2 linked regions of the Homo sapiens genome follow. The protein of the gene in region 1 interacts with the protein of each later gene in a pairwise test. Each region holds a gene or a part of one and is shown on either strand. Other genes may lie near its edges.

What was found. The genes of interacting proteins can lie anywhere in the genome.
Region 2: the proteins of SLX4 (region 1) and SLX1B interact in binary tests that used the Homo sapiens proteins (3 or more experiments, as listed by UniProt).

What each region holds. Positions count from the first base shown.
Region 1 is NC_000016.10:3,601,077-3,609,063, forward strand, and holds part of SLX4 (structure-specific endonuclease subunit SLX4), read right to left. Parts: 5' UTR 7,889-7,987; coding exon 7,354-7,888; intron 5,623-7,353; coding exon 5,398-5,622; intron 1,232-5,397; coding exon 1,042-1,231; intron 116-1,041; coding exon 1-115. UniProt on the Homo sapiens protein: Regulatory subunit that interacts with and increases the activity of different structure-specific endonucleases.
Region 2 is NC_000016.10:29,450,000-29,457,586, reverse strand, and holds the start of SLX1B (structure-specific endonuclease subunit SLX1), read right to left. Parts: upstream 3,055-7,587; 5' UTR 2,845-3,054; coding exon 2,657-2,844; exon of another isoform or gene 2,623-2,656; intron 2,497-2,622; exon of another isoform or gene 2,190-2,496; coding exon 2,138-2,189; intron 2,044-2,137; coding exon 1,702-2,043; intron 1-1,701. Other genes in the region: BOLA2 (bolA-like protein 2), read left to right, coding at 3,136-3,396, 3,512-3,571, 3,855-3,905; BOLA2-SMG1P6 protein, read left to right, coding at 3,136-3,396, 3,512-3,571. UniProt on the Homo sapiens protein: Catalytic subunit of the SLX1-SLX4 structure-specific endonuclease that resolves DNA secondary structures generated during DNA repair and recombination.

The DNA of each region.
Region 1 (7,987 bases):
CTGCTTCAAGTGACTGGTTCTGCTCTTTAAGGTAAGAAACGGTTTCCCACAAATCGGGCACTCAGGGATCTGAGGCACAGAAGGTCTTAGTGTCTTTTCAGCTTCATCCAAGCACCTGAAGGAAAACAGTCAATACAGGAGAACCACCCTCCCCAGGAATGTGGATTGGAGCAAATGTGGGTCCAGGTCAACACAGACGTGCTGTGGTCAAAGCAAGTTCCCCAAAGCCAATCCCCTCTACACAGCCTGGCTCCGTCTCCCGGCAGTCAGCCCCTAGACACTACACTTAGGTATCTGTCAGCAAAGTTGGCTAAAGAAAGCAAGGAAAGATTAAATGCAGTTACATGATGACTTAGAAATTCCACTCCTAAGTAGAGACCCCAAAGAACTGAAAGCAGGTACCCAAACAAATACATGAAACCCATGTTCACGGCAGCTCTATCCACAATCCCAAAGGGTAGAAATGCTCCAAATGTCCGCCAATGGACGAAAGGATAAACCATGGTCATATTCCTCATCTAAGAATGGGAAAAACACAGTCTAGCCATACAATGAGATACTGCTCAGCCATAAAAAGGAATGAAGCCTGCTCCATGCTACAACATGGATGAACCTCAAAAACAACATATTAAGTCAAAGAAGGCAGACACAAAAGGACAACTGTGCAATTTCAGAATCGGCAAATCCATCCAGACAGAATGTTGATTAGTGGTTGTCAGGGGAGAGAGGGGCAATAGGGAGTGGCTGCCAATGGGTGTGGGGATTCTTTTGGGGGTGATGAAAATAATCCAGAAGTGATTGTGGTGACAGTTGCCCAACTGTGTGAATATCCCAAAAGTAGTGATTTGTTCAGTTTAAATGGGTGAACTATATGTTCTGTGAATTGTATCTCAACGAAGTTATTTTTAAAAAGGGGTAGGTTGACAACAAAGCTGAGGTGCTGTTGTCATGGTAAGGTGTGGAGATCCGCACTCCAGCCCTGGGGTGCTTGGGGATTCTGGTCACATACACGGGAGAGGCGACGGCCCAAGCTGCCCCCACCTGTTCACATGCTGTTCCCTTCGGGTCACGTTCATGGCTGAGAGGTTCTTTTGACAAATCTGGCAGAAGAACAAACCCTTTTCCTCCAGGCTATCATCATGTGCCGATGCTCCTACCCGTGCAAACTCCTGCTGCAGGGTCAAGGCCACCGCAGCGTCGCTCTCTGGGGCAGGGGGCCCAAGCCCATACACTGTGGAGAAGCACCAAAGATCCGTGAGAATAAACTCCAAAGACAAGCTCACCCTCAGACCTCTGCTCTGTCAGCTCCTGCAGACCATGGGGAGCAGGTGGAACGCAAAGAAACCAGAACCCAGCTCCACTCTGCAGGCTGGTGACTTGGACACTGTCCAGTGAGACTGGGCACTAATCAGCACTCCGGGAACAGCCGTCTCCAACTTTAACATGGATATGCATTACCTGGGAAGCTTGTCGACACTCAGATTCAAATTCAAGGGGTCCAGGTGCAGCCTGAGACTCTCCGCATTTCTAGCAGCCTCCAGGCTTGGCGATGCTGGCAGCACAGGACCACTCTGAGTAGCAAGGACCTAAACTTTCCCACTTCTGCTGAAGTTGGCTACCTCGGGCATTGCAAGTTCACAAGGCTCATATTCCAACAAAGCTAGATGTTCTCTTCAAAACTCACCCTTTCCTGCTGACCTTTTACTGCCCATGATAAAACCAGGGCAGAGTGAAATGCCTTTGGCGTTTAAAAGGCAGCATCTCTTACTTAGCATCAGACTCAAGAATGGACTGATTCTGGTCTTGAGATGGCTCCCAGGGTGGCCCATCTGATATTGCTGGAGCAGACCCCTGTCACTCACAAGGGATATGCCCTGAACGCCTCATAAATCCCCAAGTTCTTCATGGCTGTGGCCTACCAGTGCCTGCCACTGAGGCCAGCAAAACAGCACACCTTCATTTTGGTGCCCTGTTTTGTTTGTTTGTTTGTTTTTGAGATGGAGTCTCACACTCTGTCGCCAGGCTGGAGTGCAACGACGCGATCTCAGCTCACTGCAACCTCTGCCTCCCGGGTCCAAGCGATTCTCCTGCCTCAGCCTCCTGAGTAGCTGGGATTACAGGTGCCCACCACACCTGGCTAATTTTTAGTAGAGACAGGGCTTCACCATGTTGGCCAGGGTGGTCCTGAATTCCTGACCTCAGGTGATCTGCCCGCCTTGGCCTCCCCAAAGTGCTGGGATTACAGGCGTGAGCCACCGCGTCCAGCCTGGTTTGGTTTCTTAACAAACAAATGGTTTATCTCTTTCTGAGCACTTGCTGGGTGTGATGTGAAGATACAGAGAGAACTGAGTCAAATGCTGGGCAGGGGCGGAGCTCACACCAGCTGGGTGCCTCCTCTGCAACTCACATGTGCGTCCAGGACTGATGCCTCGGCAGGACATCAAATCACTGCCTGCTGTGGACCCTGGGGTGGCCTGAGACTCCTCCGTGCTACTGCAGTGAAATCTGCAATGCAATGCCAAGATCCTGCATACTTATTAGCTGTAGGTCTGCCGATAATGGTTTCTTCCTATTTCTTTTCCTTTTGTATATTTTCATCAGAGATGAGAATCCATATTGTTTTGGGGATGGAGAACAGGAGCACCTGGCATTATTACGCTTATTGGGCCGGTGCCACACCAAGTACACAGCAGCTATGGGGCACTGTCGCCACCCTGTCTCACCTGCAGCCAATGAGCCTCTAATCTACTCAGAGTGGGGCAACCCAATGGTTAGAGGAAGGAGTTAACGATCCCATAAAGAAATAAATCCAGAAAGTGGGAAATCTTATAATACAATTAGCCTAGCCTCTTCAAAAACTCAGTGTCATAGGGCTGGGTGTGGTGGTTCACACCTGTAATCCTAGCACTTTGGGAGGCTGAGGAGGGCAGATCCCCTGAGCTCAGGAGTTCAAGACCAGCCTGGGCAACATGGTGAAACCCCATTTCTAGTAAAAATACAAAAAAATTAGCCGGGTGTGGTGGTGGGTGCTTGTAATCCCAGCTACTCAGGAGGCCGAGGCACGAGAATAGCTTGAACCTGGGAGGCAGAGGTTGCAGTGAACCGAGATTGTGCCACTGCACTCTAGCCAAGCCTCTGTCAAAAAAAAAAAAAAAAAAAGTCAGTGTCATGGAAAACAAAAGGAAATGGGGGACTATTCTAGAATCTAGACCTTAGGATACTGCTGAGCTACAGCAATATGCAGTGTGTGAACTTACTGAATCCTTGTTCAGAAAAAAAAGAAACCAGCTACAAAAAATAACCTTGAGACAACCAGGGAAATTTGAGTTTGAACTGGACGCCAGGCACTATTATGGAATTAAGCGTGCTAATGGTATTGTGGTTATGCAGCAGAATCTAGGGGTAAAGGATCCTAATGTCTATAATTTACCTTCAGATAATATGGAAGAAAAATATGTACGCTTGGCTAGGCACGGTGGCTCACGTCTGTAATCCCAGCACTTTGGGAGACTGAGGTGGACAGATCACAAGGTCAGGAGTTCCAGAACAGCCTGGCCGGCATGGTGAAACCCCAACTCTACTAAAAATACAAAAATTAGCTGGACGTGGTGGTGCATGCCTGTAGTCCCAGCTTCCTGGAAGCTGAGGCAGGAGAATGGCTTGAACCCAGGAGGTGGAGTTTGCAGTGAGCCGAGATTGCGCCACTGCACCCCAACCTGGGAGACAGACCAAGACTCCATCTCAAAAAAAAAAAAAAATGTATATTTATAAAGACATAAACAAATGGCCAAATGTTAACATTTGTTAAATCTAGATTGAGGTATAGGGGATTAGGGGATTCATTGTAATTTTTTTTTTTTTTTTTTTGAGACAGGGTCTCACTCTGTTGCCCTGGAGTGCAATGATGCAATCACAGCTCACTGCAGCTCAACGTCCTGGGCTCAAGCAATCCTCCCACCTCAGCCTCCCGAGTAGCTGGGACTACAGTTGTGCACCATCATGCCCAGCTAATTAAAAAAAAATTTTTTTTTGAGTCAGAGTCTTGCTCTGTTGCCCAGGCTGGAGTGCAGTGGTGCAATCTCGGCTCACTGCAAGCTCTGTCTCCCAGGTTCACGCCATTCTCCTGCCTCAGCCTCCCGAGTAGCTGGGACTACAGGCACCCACCACCATACCTTGCTAATTTTTTGTATTTTTCATAGAGATGGGGTTTCACTGTGTTAGCCAGGATGGTCTCAATCTCCTGACCTTGTGATCTGCGCACCTCGGCCTCCCAAAGTGCTGGCATTACAGGCGTGAGCCACCACGCCTGGCCCCTAAAATTTTTTTGTAGAGATGGGGGTCTCACTATGTTGTCCAGGCTGGTCTCGAACTTGTGACCTCAAGTAGTCCTCCTGCCTTGGCCTCCCAAAGTTTTGGGATTATAGGCATGAGCCATCATGCCTGGCTTCATTGTAATTAAAACAACAACAACAAAAAAACCTTTTCTGAAAGGAAGAGTTCTTTGTGAATACTGAGGGTTATCTTTTTAAAAGGAAAAAACTGAAAGGGAAAGCTTTCATAATAAAAAGTCATAATTTTTAAAAAAAGGAGGCCAGGCACAGTGGCTCACGCCTGTAATCCCAGCACTTTGGGAGGCCAAGGCGGGTGGATCACGAGGTCAGGAGATCGAGACCATCCTGGCTAACAAGGTGAAACCTTGTCTCTACTAAAAATACAAAAAATTAGCCAGGCGTGGTGGTGGGAGCCTGTAGTCCCAGCTACTCGGGAGGCTGAGGCAGGAGAATGGCGTGAACCTGGGAGGTGGAGCTTGCAGTGAGCTAATATCGTGCCACTGCACTCCAGCCTGGGTGACGGAGCGAGACTCCATCTCAAAAAAAAAAAAAAAAAAAAAAAAGGAAGAGGGCCAGGTGCAATGGTTCACGCCTGTAATCCCAGCACTTTGGGGAGCTGAGGTAGGCAGATCACTTGAGGTCAGGAGTTCGAGACCAGCCTGGCCAACTTGGCGAAACCCTGTCTCTACTAAAAATACAAAAATTGGCCAGGTGTGGTGGCACACGTCTGTAATCCCACTGGCTGGGGCAAGATAATTGCTTGAACCTGGGAGGCGGAGGTTGCAGTGAGCTGAGATCATGTCACTGCACTCCAGCCTGGGTGACAGAGCAAGGCTCTGTCTCAGAAAAAAAAACAAAACGGTACCTTATCAAGGAAGCTAGGTGGGAAATGATCCCAGAGACTCTTCATTCTCTGGCTGGATCCAGTGAAGTGGCAAAGGTAAAACATCAAGCAGAGAGCCTATCCACAGAAGAAACTCAACAAATGCTGATTCCTTCCCGCCTCCCTTCCTCAGAGTTGTATTAACTTATCTCTGTGTGGAAGACAGAAACACACTCATCATACCATTCCCCGCCATCATCTCCTCTTGAGGATCCTTTGGGACATTTTCTTCCCGCGCAGCCTCGAGGGAGCACTCTTCTGAAGCGTGTCTCAAACGCTCGGGGTCTGCTCTCTTGAACTGCTGCATTCGCTGTAGGACCAATTGTGCTGTGCGGGGTTTGGAGGGACTTGGCACTGCTGTTGTCAAACAGGAAGGAGGAGGCTGGGAGTCGCTGTTGGGCACATTCTCTGGCAAGGAGGAAAATATTCACAACCATCTGTTGTAGCTGGAGAAATAAAAGACTTTTCTACCAGATACAGGTTAGACGCAAGTTTCAAGAGTCCTTTATCAACTAGTTTAGGTTTGACTCACAAATGTGAAGAGGACTGGTTGCTTGTTGGTAACCTCTTTGTTTATGGCAATATAGACATAAATATCAATAACAGGAGGGGAATGGGATGTGACTGCTAATGAGCATGGGGTTTATTTTTAGGATGATAAAACTGTTCTAACGTTAGGTAGTGGTGGTGGTTGGACAAGTCTGTGAATATACTAAAAACCACTGAACCATACCCTTTTAAATGGTGAATTTTATGGAATATCAATTATACCCCAATAAAGCTATTATTAAAGAAATATTAATGACAAAGGTTTATGTCCTAGATCAGTTCTTCTTTAACTTGGGATCCACGGATGATCTTCAGTGGGGATCCATGAACCCCATGAAGTTGTGTGCCAGTTTTGCAGATACGCGCATGGATACGTGTTTTGGGGGAACCATGCATAGATTTCATCCGACTGGCAAAGAGCACGAGAGACCAGTAAAGTTGGTGAGGCAACACTGCTGATGCCTTCCAGTAGTCTATGCGACCTGAGACTCTACCACCACTCTACTGAGAGGTTATTAAGATCAGGAAGTGAGGGCAAAGGAAATTTAGAAACAGAACTCAGGAGCTCAGAGAGCCCATGGTGTATTATATATGCAAGGGTAGTTTTCAGTTTTGCATGAAGAATGTGTAGTAAGCATATAGCTCAGTATACCAAGGGCAGCAGGGCAAGAAAACTGCTTTAAACAGTTAAAAAATTATCCAGGCACGGTGGTGGGTGCCTGTGGTCCCAGCTACTCGGGAGGCTGAGGCAGGGAGGACTGCTTGAACCTGGGAGGTCAAGGCTGCAGTAAGCTATGATAGCACCACTGCACTCCAGCCTGGGTGAGAGACCAAGATCCTGTCTCTAAAAACTAAGTAAGTAAATAAATCAATAACAATAACAAAGGAAAAGATTAAAAGGTCTTCAGAGAGAGAAAGAAAGAACCTGAAGATTCTCCTGGGACTTGAGCCCACACAGAGTCCTCATGCGGCCCTCTCAGCAGCCTATCCAAATTGGCTGGCCCAGTCCAACTTACCCACTTTGGAATAAATTCAAGAAAACAAGAGAAGCAGCATTATTGTGTTGTTTGTGTAACTCATGTCAATCATATAACAGAATTTCATAGGAAATTCTGAAAGAGCAGAGGACTCCAAACACAATCATGTGAAAAATTCACACGGGTTATGTTTTTCTTGACTGTTGTTTAAACCAGGAGTCAGCCGGGCGCAGTGGCTTACGCCTGTAATCCCAGCACTCTGAGAGGCTGAGGCACGAGGATTGCTTGAGTCCAGGAGTTCAAGACCAGCCTGGGCAACATAGTGAGACCTCCAGCTCTAAATTTTTTTTTAAGCTTAAAAATTAAAAAATAAAAACAAACCAAAAGTTAGCAAACTACGGTCATGTGGCTGGCTGCCTGTTTTTGTAAATAAAGTTTTACTGGCATATGGCCATGCCTGTTCATTTACATATTGTCCACGCCTGCTTTCTCACTATGACAGCAGAGTTGAGTAGTTGTGACAGAGTCTGTGTGGCCTACAAAGCCAAAATATTTACGATCTGGCCCTTTCCAGGAAGTTTTCCAGCCCCTGGTTTAAAAGAGTACAAATTACCTCTGGTTTTCTCTCTGGAAAGGTTTGGCGATGGTTCTTGCTGGTTACCCGTCTGGGTGTTTTGTGCTGTTTCCCGGAGCACAGGTGGATCTGGAGCAGAGGCAAGCACACCCCCCTCCCCATTCACAGAGTGGGCCGGTTCACTTGCTTGCCATTTGGTTACCCTTTGCTTTTTAGTCCTAGGGGCCTGGCTGCCAGACGGAGGTTTCTTCTCTGCAGGGCCTTGAAGGGTTTTGGTCTTGGTAGCAGTTTGTTTGGTCCTTTTCAATTTGCTTCTTATCTGAGTGCCGTTTGAGGCAGCCTTTTGTGTCTTCCTTTCTCCTGACACTTCCTTGATTCCATGTTTTTTCACCCTTTGGAAAAAGCTAGCGCAGAGTTCTTTAAAGTCCTCATCAGACTCATCCATCATCTGACCAGTTTTAAGGCTTTCAGGCTGGTCTTCAGAGGAGCGAGGGTCAATCCCAGGACAGGCAGACAGATGAGAAAGTGAACCCAAGTAGAAGCCTAGCTGAGCCTCATTCACACTCAGTTTCATTAGGGTTCTTCTCTACTTCTCCATTAGATACTTGGAGAGTTTGCACAATTGAACAAAAAGTACTGTTTTCCTCTCTATAATGATTGAAGTATCTTTGTT
Region 2 (7,587 bases), about 26 Mb from region 1:
CTGGCAGCAACCCCTCTATGCAGCAGGCACTGTTGCGGGCATTACACAGCTCCATCCCATGAGGCAGGGGTGACTGTTATTTGCATCTTACAAATGAAGAAACTGAGGTGGACAGTTAAAATCCTTGCCCCTAGGACTAAGCTGGTGCAGGTCCTGGGAGCATCAGCAGTGATTGATTGAGTCACAGCCTCACCACTGCAGCCAGACCTGAACTTCCTCACAGCTCAGCAACACCCAGCAGGTCACTGAATGTCCCCAGGGCAAGTCCTCTACTCACTCACAATTACCGGGAGCTCAGTAGAAGGCACCCATCGTCCATTATTTTATTAAATATTTAGGCCGGGCACGGTGGCTCATGCCTGTAATACCAGCATTTTGGGAGGCTTAGGTGGGCAGGATCACCTGAGGTCAGGAGTTTGAGACCAGCCTGGCCAACATGGTTGAAACCCCATCTCTACTAAAAATACAAAAATTAGCCAGGCGCGGTGGCAGGCGCGTGTAATCCCAGCTACTCTGGAGGCTGAGGAAGGAGAATTGCTTGAAACCAGGAGGCAGAGGTTGCAGTGAGCTGAGATCGCGCCACTACACTCCAGCCTGAGCGACAGAGTAAGACTCTGTCTCAAAAAAAAAATAAATAAATAAATAAAAAGAAAATTTCTGGGCCATCGGCTCAGTGCAGGACTTTGTTCTACAGCAGTGATAAGTGCTGCCCTCTGATAGTGCAGTGTGGCAGTTGGGGTGGGAGAGGCTAATGAGATCAAGAAAACACGTAGCATGCCAGACAATAGTAAGTGTTAAGGGAAAGGGGGTGCAGAAAAGTGCACACAAGAATGAGCTGCAGTTCATTACATTGTTTTAGAGACAGGGTCATGTCCAGGCATGGTGGCTCACGCCTATAATCCCAGCACTCTGGGAGGCCGAGGCGGGCAGATCACTTGAGGTCAGGAGTTTGAGACCAGCCTGCCCAACATGGCGAACCCCATCCCTACTAAAAACACAAACATTCGGCAGGTGTGGTGGCACACTTGGGAGGTTGAGATAGGAGAATCGCTTGAACCCAGGAGGCGGAGCTTCCAGTGAGCTGAGATCACTGCACTCCAGCCTCCGCAACAGAGCAAGACTCTGTCTAAAAAAAAAAAAAGGGCCGGGCGCGGTGGCTCATGCCTGTAATCCCAGCACTTTGGGAGGCTGAGGCGGGCGGATCACGAGGCTAGGACATCGAGACCATCCTGGCTAACACGGTGAAACCCCGTCTCTACTAAAAATACAAAAAATTAACCAGGCGTGGTGGCGGGCGCCTGTAGTCCCAGCTACTCGGGAGGCTGAGGCAGGAGAATGGCGTGAACCCAGGAGGCGGAGCTTGCAGTGAGCAGAGATCGCGCCACTGCACTCTAGCCTGGGCGACAGAGCTAGACTCCATCTCAAAAAAAAAAAAAAAAAAAAGAGGGTCATGCTCTGTCGACCACACTGGAGTGCAGCGGAGTACTGATGGCCTAGGGAAGAACCTTTTCTTTGAAGGGGAAATGGTGAAGGCCCTGAGCAGGGCCTGCTTTGCTCAGGAATGGCCGTAAGTCCTATAGCATCAGCATCTTAGAGATGGGGATAGGGTGGCCAAAGCGTGTCAGTGGGTTTCCCTCAAGAAAGAGCTGGATCCGAAGTCGTCTGGACTCTAGAGCCATCCATTCCTCGGGGGGACCTCACCTGGATGGTCTGGGCGCACAGGGAGCAGCAGGCCCCTGGATCCCCCTGGTCTGGCTCAGGCTCCGCGTCATCAAAGGGACCTGCGCGGCGCCTTGGGGCCGGGGCCTGGGGCGGTGGAGGCCCGAAGGCCAGAGGCACGTGCGGCGGCGGCGGGAGGCAGAGGTCCTGGCGGAGGTCTGGGCGCACCCAGCGCAGCGTGAGCGGGAGGCGAGCCCAGGGCGGTGCGCGCAGCATGTGCGCCAGCACGCGCAGGTGGAAAGCGAAGGCTGTCTCTCCTCGCAGGCGAGGCCCCACGTGCGCCAGGCGGCGCGAGGCGTGCGGGTGCTGCCAAGCCCACTCAAACTGCGGGCGGCGTACAGGGGCATCAGGGCGGCTCGGAGCGAGGGGCGGAACCCAAGCCCTCACCCGGCCGCCGCTGCCCGGTCTCCTTCCTTACCCGAAGGGCGGCCACGGAGGACGGGAAGCCGTGCACGACGAGCACCATCTCCCTGAGGAGGAGAACCGTGATGTCCCTGTCGCAGCCCAGCGCCTCAGCCGCGGGTCCCCTCCAATCCCACCCGAGAGCGGGGTCCTCATTCCCGGCTTCAGCCGAGAAGTGCAGCCCTCTGCACCTGCCCACCTCAGGCCCTGCCTCCAGCCCAGGTACCCACCTGTCCCACCTCCTCTCTCTCCTGCATTCCACCCGACCCCAGCGTGCCCACCAAGAGCCCTATGCTGGAACCCAGCCTGGATCATCACCCCCGCCCCAGCTAGCTCCTTCCCTGAGTTCCGCCGCGGAGATGCCCCGGGCACCGCCTCCCCGTCACGCTCCTCCCCTGCGACAGGCCCCGTCCCCACCACAGACGCCCCGCCTCTGTCACAGTCCTGGCCGGTCCTTCTCAACAGGCCTGTGCCCCGCGGGGTCCGCCTCCTCTGGGACGCCTTCCTCCCGGCACAGAAGGCCTCCCCCTCTCACCAGGGCCCTCGCCCGCTGGTCCGCCAGGCCCCGCCTTTTTTGCGGCCCCCATTGTGCTGCTGGACCCGACGAGCAGTGTTGACAGTGAACCCCACGTAGACGCGGCCCCGGTACCGGGGGTTCAGGCAGTAGAGCAGGTAGACGCCGAAAAAGCGCCCTGGCCTCGCCGCGACCCCCGCGGGACCCATCGGGCCTTGGGGTTCGGGAACCACAGCAGGGGGTTGATTGCCGTGACCTAGGGTCCAGGGGAGGGCTGGATCGCTAGGGCTGCAGGGTGCTTGCTTCGGAACAAGCTCTCGGGGACTATCCGGAGGCAGCCTGCAGGAAGCCGTAGCGCCGGTACGTGCCCCTCTCCTGTCTGGAGGCGGGTGTAGAAGTCCGACCGCGGAAGCCAGACTGCTGTCCAGTCGGCGAGCGCGTACCATTCAGCATCGGCTCCGCCCGAGTCCCACCTTCCTCAGGCTCTGATTGGCTGACACATGGCAAGCGCGAAAAGCCTGGACCGCTGGAAAGCCCGGCTGCTTGAGGGCGGAAGTACTGCGTTGACGTACGCCTTAGTAAGGGCGGAAGTGAGTTTTCCAGCGGAAGTGGCTCCTGTAAGGCAGCAAGGTAGCGTGGCCGGCGCCCGAGCTGGGGTTGTGTCCCTGCTGGGCTGCCGTTCCAGCTGGACTGCCGCCATGGAACTCAGCGCCGAATACCTCCGCGAGAAGCTGCAGCGGGACCTGGAGGCGGAGCATGTGGTGAGTTGAGCCGCCGGACAAGGGGAAAAGAGCTCGGGGGGCGGGTTCGGCACCATTCATATTCTTCCGCTCGGTAGGAGGTGGAGGACACGACCCTCAACCGTTGCTCCTGTAGCTTCCGAGTCCTGGTGGTGTCGGCCAAGTTCGAGGGGAAACCGCTGCTTCAGAGACACAGGTAAGGCCCTGGGAGCACCTTGCCTAGCTCCTGTACCACAACCCCAGCCACTCCCCCTACCCCTGCAACCTGACTCCCGCACTCCCCCTGGCGTGGCTCAGGGACCTTGAGGATCCCGCCTTCGTGACCCCTGCTTCGAGTATTTCGATGTAGACCCTCTCTCCAAGTACGTGTTCCCACGGCCTGGGGACTACAACCTTGGGGACACCAGTCTCTTGGGTCACCCTAGCCTCGGGGTGTGCGATCACCGCTGGCCTTTTCCTAACCCCATCTCTCGCCCCAGGCTGGTGAACGCGTGCCTAGCAGAAGAGCTCCCGCACATCCATGCCTTTGAACAGAAAACCCTGACCCCAGACCAGTGGGCACGTGAGCGACAGAAATGAGGGACTGGGATCTGCACAGCCATTAAATTATAAATCTGGACCAGCTTCTGTGTCGATGTGTGTGTGGGAGGGGTGCTGAGGCCGAGTCTAGGACCTGGCCTCTCCCTGCCCTGCCTCCGTCCATTGTTTTACCTTGGACACGTCTCTGTCCCCATCTAGGCCTCTATCCCTGCTTGTAAAATGAAAGTTCTACCGTAAAAGTCCCTTCCAGGGTCTACCGAGAAAGCCTTCTCTCTGCAACTCCGTTTAGACATCTAGGAGTCTGTACTGCCACCACCTACCCACCTCCTAGAGAGCTCAGGGTTCCTCCTCTCTGCTAGCCTTCAAGATGCAGAGATGAGAAAGTGATCGGGGTTTCAGGGCCCTGACCAGTTGAACAAACCTCTCCCTGACATTACCGCAGTATCAGAGGCACCATATAGAATTCCACATATTCCTTGCAGGTTCCCCCCGGCCTTCTCAGGCCCAAGAGGGAGTGGTGCCCAGGTAGGGGCTCATCAACTCCTGGAATGCTGATGTTTTCAGACCCACTGGAGAAGGTTCCAGTGGCCCCATAGCCCTGGGCTTAATGTGTCTACAGCTGCCCCCGGAGGACCATGGAGGTTTTAAGAATAGTGGGTGTGGGACGGGGATAGGGGTGAGATTAGAGTAGGAATATAAGGCTGACCTGAGTCAGAAAATTGGGGCAGGTGATGCCCCTGTATCAGTCTTCATAACAGGTTAGTAGGGTTGCTAGGACCTTGTTTGTTTTATTTGTTTTTTGTTGTTTGAGACAGGGTCTTGCTCTGTCGCCCAGGCTGGAGTGCCGTGGCGCCATCTCAGCTCATTGCAACCTCTGCCTCCCAGGTTCAAAAGATTCTTGTGCTTCAGCCTCCTGAGTAGCTGGGATTACAGGGGTGCACCACCATGCCCGGCTAATTTTTGTACTTTTAGTAGAGACAGGGTTTCACCATGTTGGCCAGGCCAGTCTCAAACTCCTGGCCTCAAGTGATCTGCCCGCCTTGGTCTCCTAAAGTGCTGGAATTTTAGGCGTGAGCCATTGTACCTGGCCCAGATTGCTAGGACTTTGAACAGAGGTCCCTGAGACCTAGGGAGGGAGCCCAAATAACCTAGTTGGGGCCAGGGCTCGTTGAGAGTGAGAAATTGCAAGTTTCAGCCATCACACACTCTTTTCCTGCGTTTTTTTGTTTGTTTGTTTGTTTGTTTTGAGACAGAGTCTTGGCTCTGTTGCCCAGGCTGGAGTGCAGTAGCATGATCTTGGCTCACTACAACTTCCCCCTCCCGGGTTCAAGCGATTCTCCTGCCTCAGCCTCCCTAGTAGCTGGGATTACAGGCACACGCCACCATGCCCAGCTAATTTTTGGGGTTTTTTTATTGTTTGTTTGTTTGTCTGTTTTTGAGACAGAGTTTCACTCTTGTTGCCCAGGCTGGAGTGCAATGGCACGATCTCGGCTCACCACAACCTCCGCCTCCTGGGTTCAAGCGATTCTCTTGTCTCAGCCTCCCAAGTAGCTGGGATTACAGGTATGTGCTACCACGCCCGGCTAATCTTGTATTTTTAATAGAGACAGGGTTTCTCCATGTTGTTCAGGCTGGTCTTGAACTCCCGACCTCAGGTGATCCACCCGCCTCGGCCTCCAAAAGTGCTGGGATTACAGGCGTGTGCCACTTATGCCCAGCTTTCTTTTTTGTTTTCTTCCCACACCTCTACTGCCCAAGTAGTTTTCTATGGCATACTGAAGAGGTGGGGCCTGGAAATGACGCCATGGGTGGTCCCTGCTTGATATGAACCAAACCTTACTATGGCTAAGACGCCCATCCCAAACAGCCCTGTGTCCTCCCATCTCAGGATCACCTGCTAAGTTGGGTATCAAAACCTATTCCCACACCCACTCCCCACAAGGCCTGACAGACCTGTTCCTGCCAGGTCTCTCACAGAGGTCAGGCCCAGGCAGAACCCACAGGAAGGGCTAGAGAGGCAGAAGCACTCACTACACGGGGGAAGGCTCTGAATTCAAAAGGGGAGACATAAGGCCAGGCACAGCGGCTCATGCCTGTAATCCCAGCACTTTGGGAGGCTGAGGCAGGCAGATGACTTGAGGCCAGGAGTTTGAGACCAGTCTGGCCAACATGGTGAGACCCCACCTCTACTGAAAACACAAAAGTTAGCCGGACGTGGTGGCACATGCCTGTAATCCCAGCTACTTGGGAGTCTGAGGCACGAGAATGGCTTGAACCCAGAAGGCAGAGGTTGCGGTGAGCCGAGATTGTGCCATTGTACTCAATTTGGGCAACAAGAATGAAACTCCATCTCAGAAAAAATTAAATAAATAAAAAAGTGGGGAGACTTGGACTCTGACTTGGGATCTGCCCTTCAGTGAGCTGGGCTCCTGCTCCCGGCCTCAGTTTCTTCTCTGGTAAACTAGGATCAGCCTGTTGCCTTAATTCTGTCTTTTCCTTAGAAGAAGTTCCCCTGTTTCATATATTAAAATATATAATATATAAAACATATATATAAAATATATATAATTTATATTATAATATATAATATAATATAATATAATATATTATAATATATATTATATATTATACTATATTATTATATAGTATAATATATAACTTATTACTATATAATATAATATATAATTTATTATTATATAATATAATATATATTATATATTAAAATATATAATTAATATATATAATATTTATATATTAAAATATAATATATATAATATTTATATATTAAAATATATTATATATAATATATTTATATATTAAAATATATAATATATATAATATATTTATATATTAAAATATATATGATGTATTTATACATTTAAAAAAAAAAAAATATATATATATATATATTTTTTTTTTTTTTTTTTTTGAGACGAAGTCTCACTCCTGTCCCCCAGGCTGGAGTACAATGGCATGATCTCGGCTCACTGCAACCTTTGCCTCCCGGATTCAAGCAATTCTCTTGCCTCAGCCTCCTGAGTAGCTGAGATTACAGGCGCCTGCCACCATGCCCAGCTAATTTTTGTATTTTTAGTAGAGATGGGGTTTCACCATGTTGGCCAGGCTGGTCTCGAACTTCTGACCTCAGGTGATTCACCCACCTCGGCCTCCTAAAGTGCTGGGATTACAGGCGTGAGCTGCCACACCCGGCCTATTTATATTTTTTAGAGACAGTGTCTTGCTCTGTCACCCAGGCTGCAGTGCAGTGGTGCAATGGCTCATTGCAGCCTCGACCTCCTGGGCTCAAGGGATCCTCCTGCCTCAGCCTCCTGAGTAGCTGGAACTATAGGTGCCCACCACCATGCCTGGCTAATTTTTTATTTTATTTTTCGTAGAGACGGTATCTCGCCGTGTTGCTCAGGCAGGTCTCAAACTCCTGGGCTCAAATGATCCTGCCGCCTCAGCCTCCCACAGTGCTGGGATTATAGACGTGAGTCCCCATGCCCAGCCTCCCTCGTTATTTTTATCTTTGGACCTGCAGTTTAAAAGATGCCTACCCTGTAAGTGATGGTTGGTTCATTTCCTCACAAGCAACAGTGCCAGCAGAGTCACGTGCAACGTGATGTTTTGGTTGACTAGGAAAGGCAGATTTTTGGTAAATTTGGGAATTAT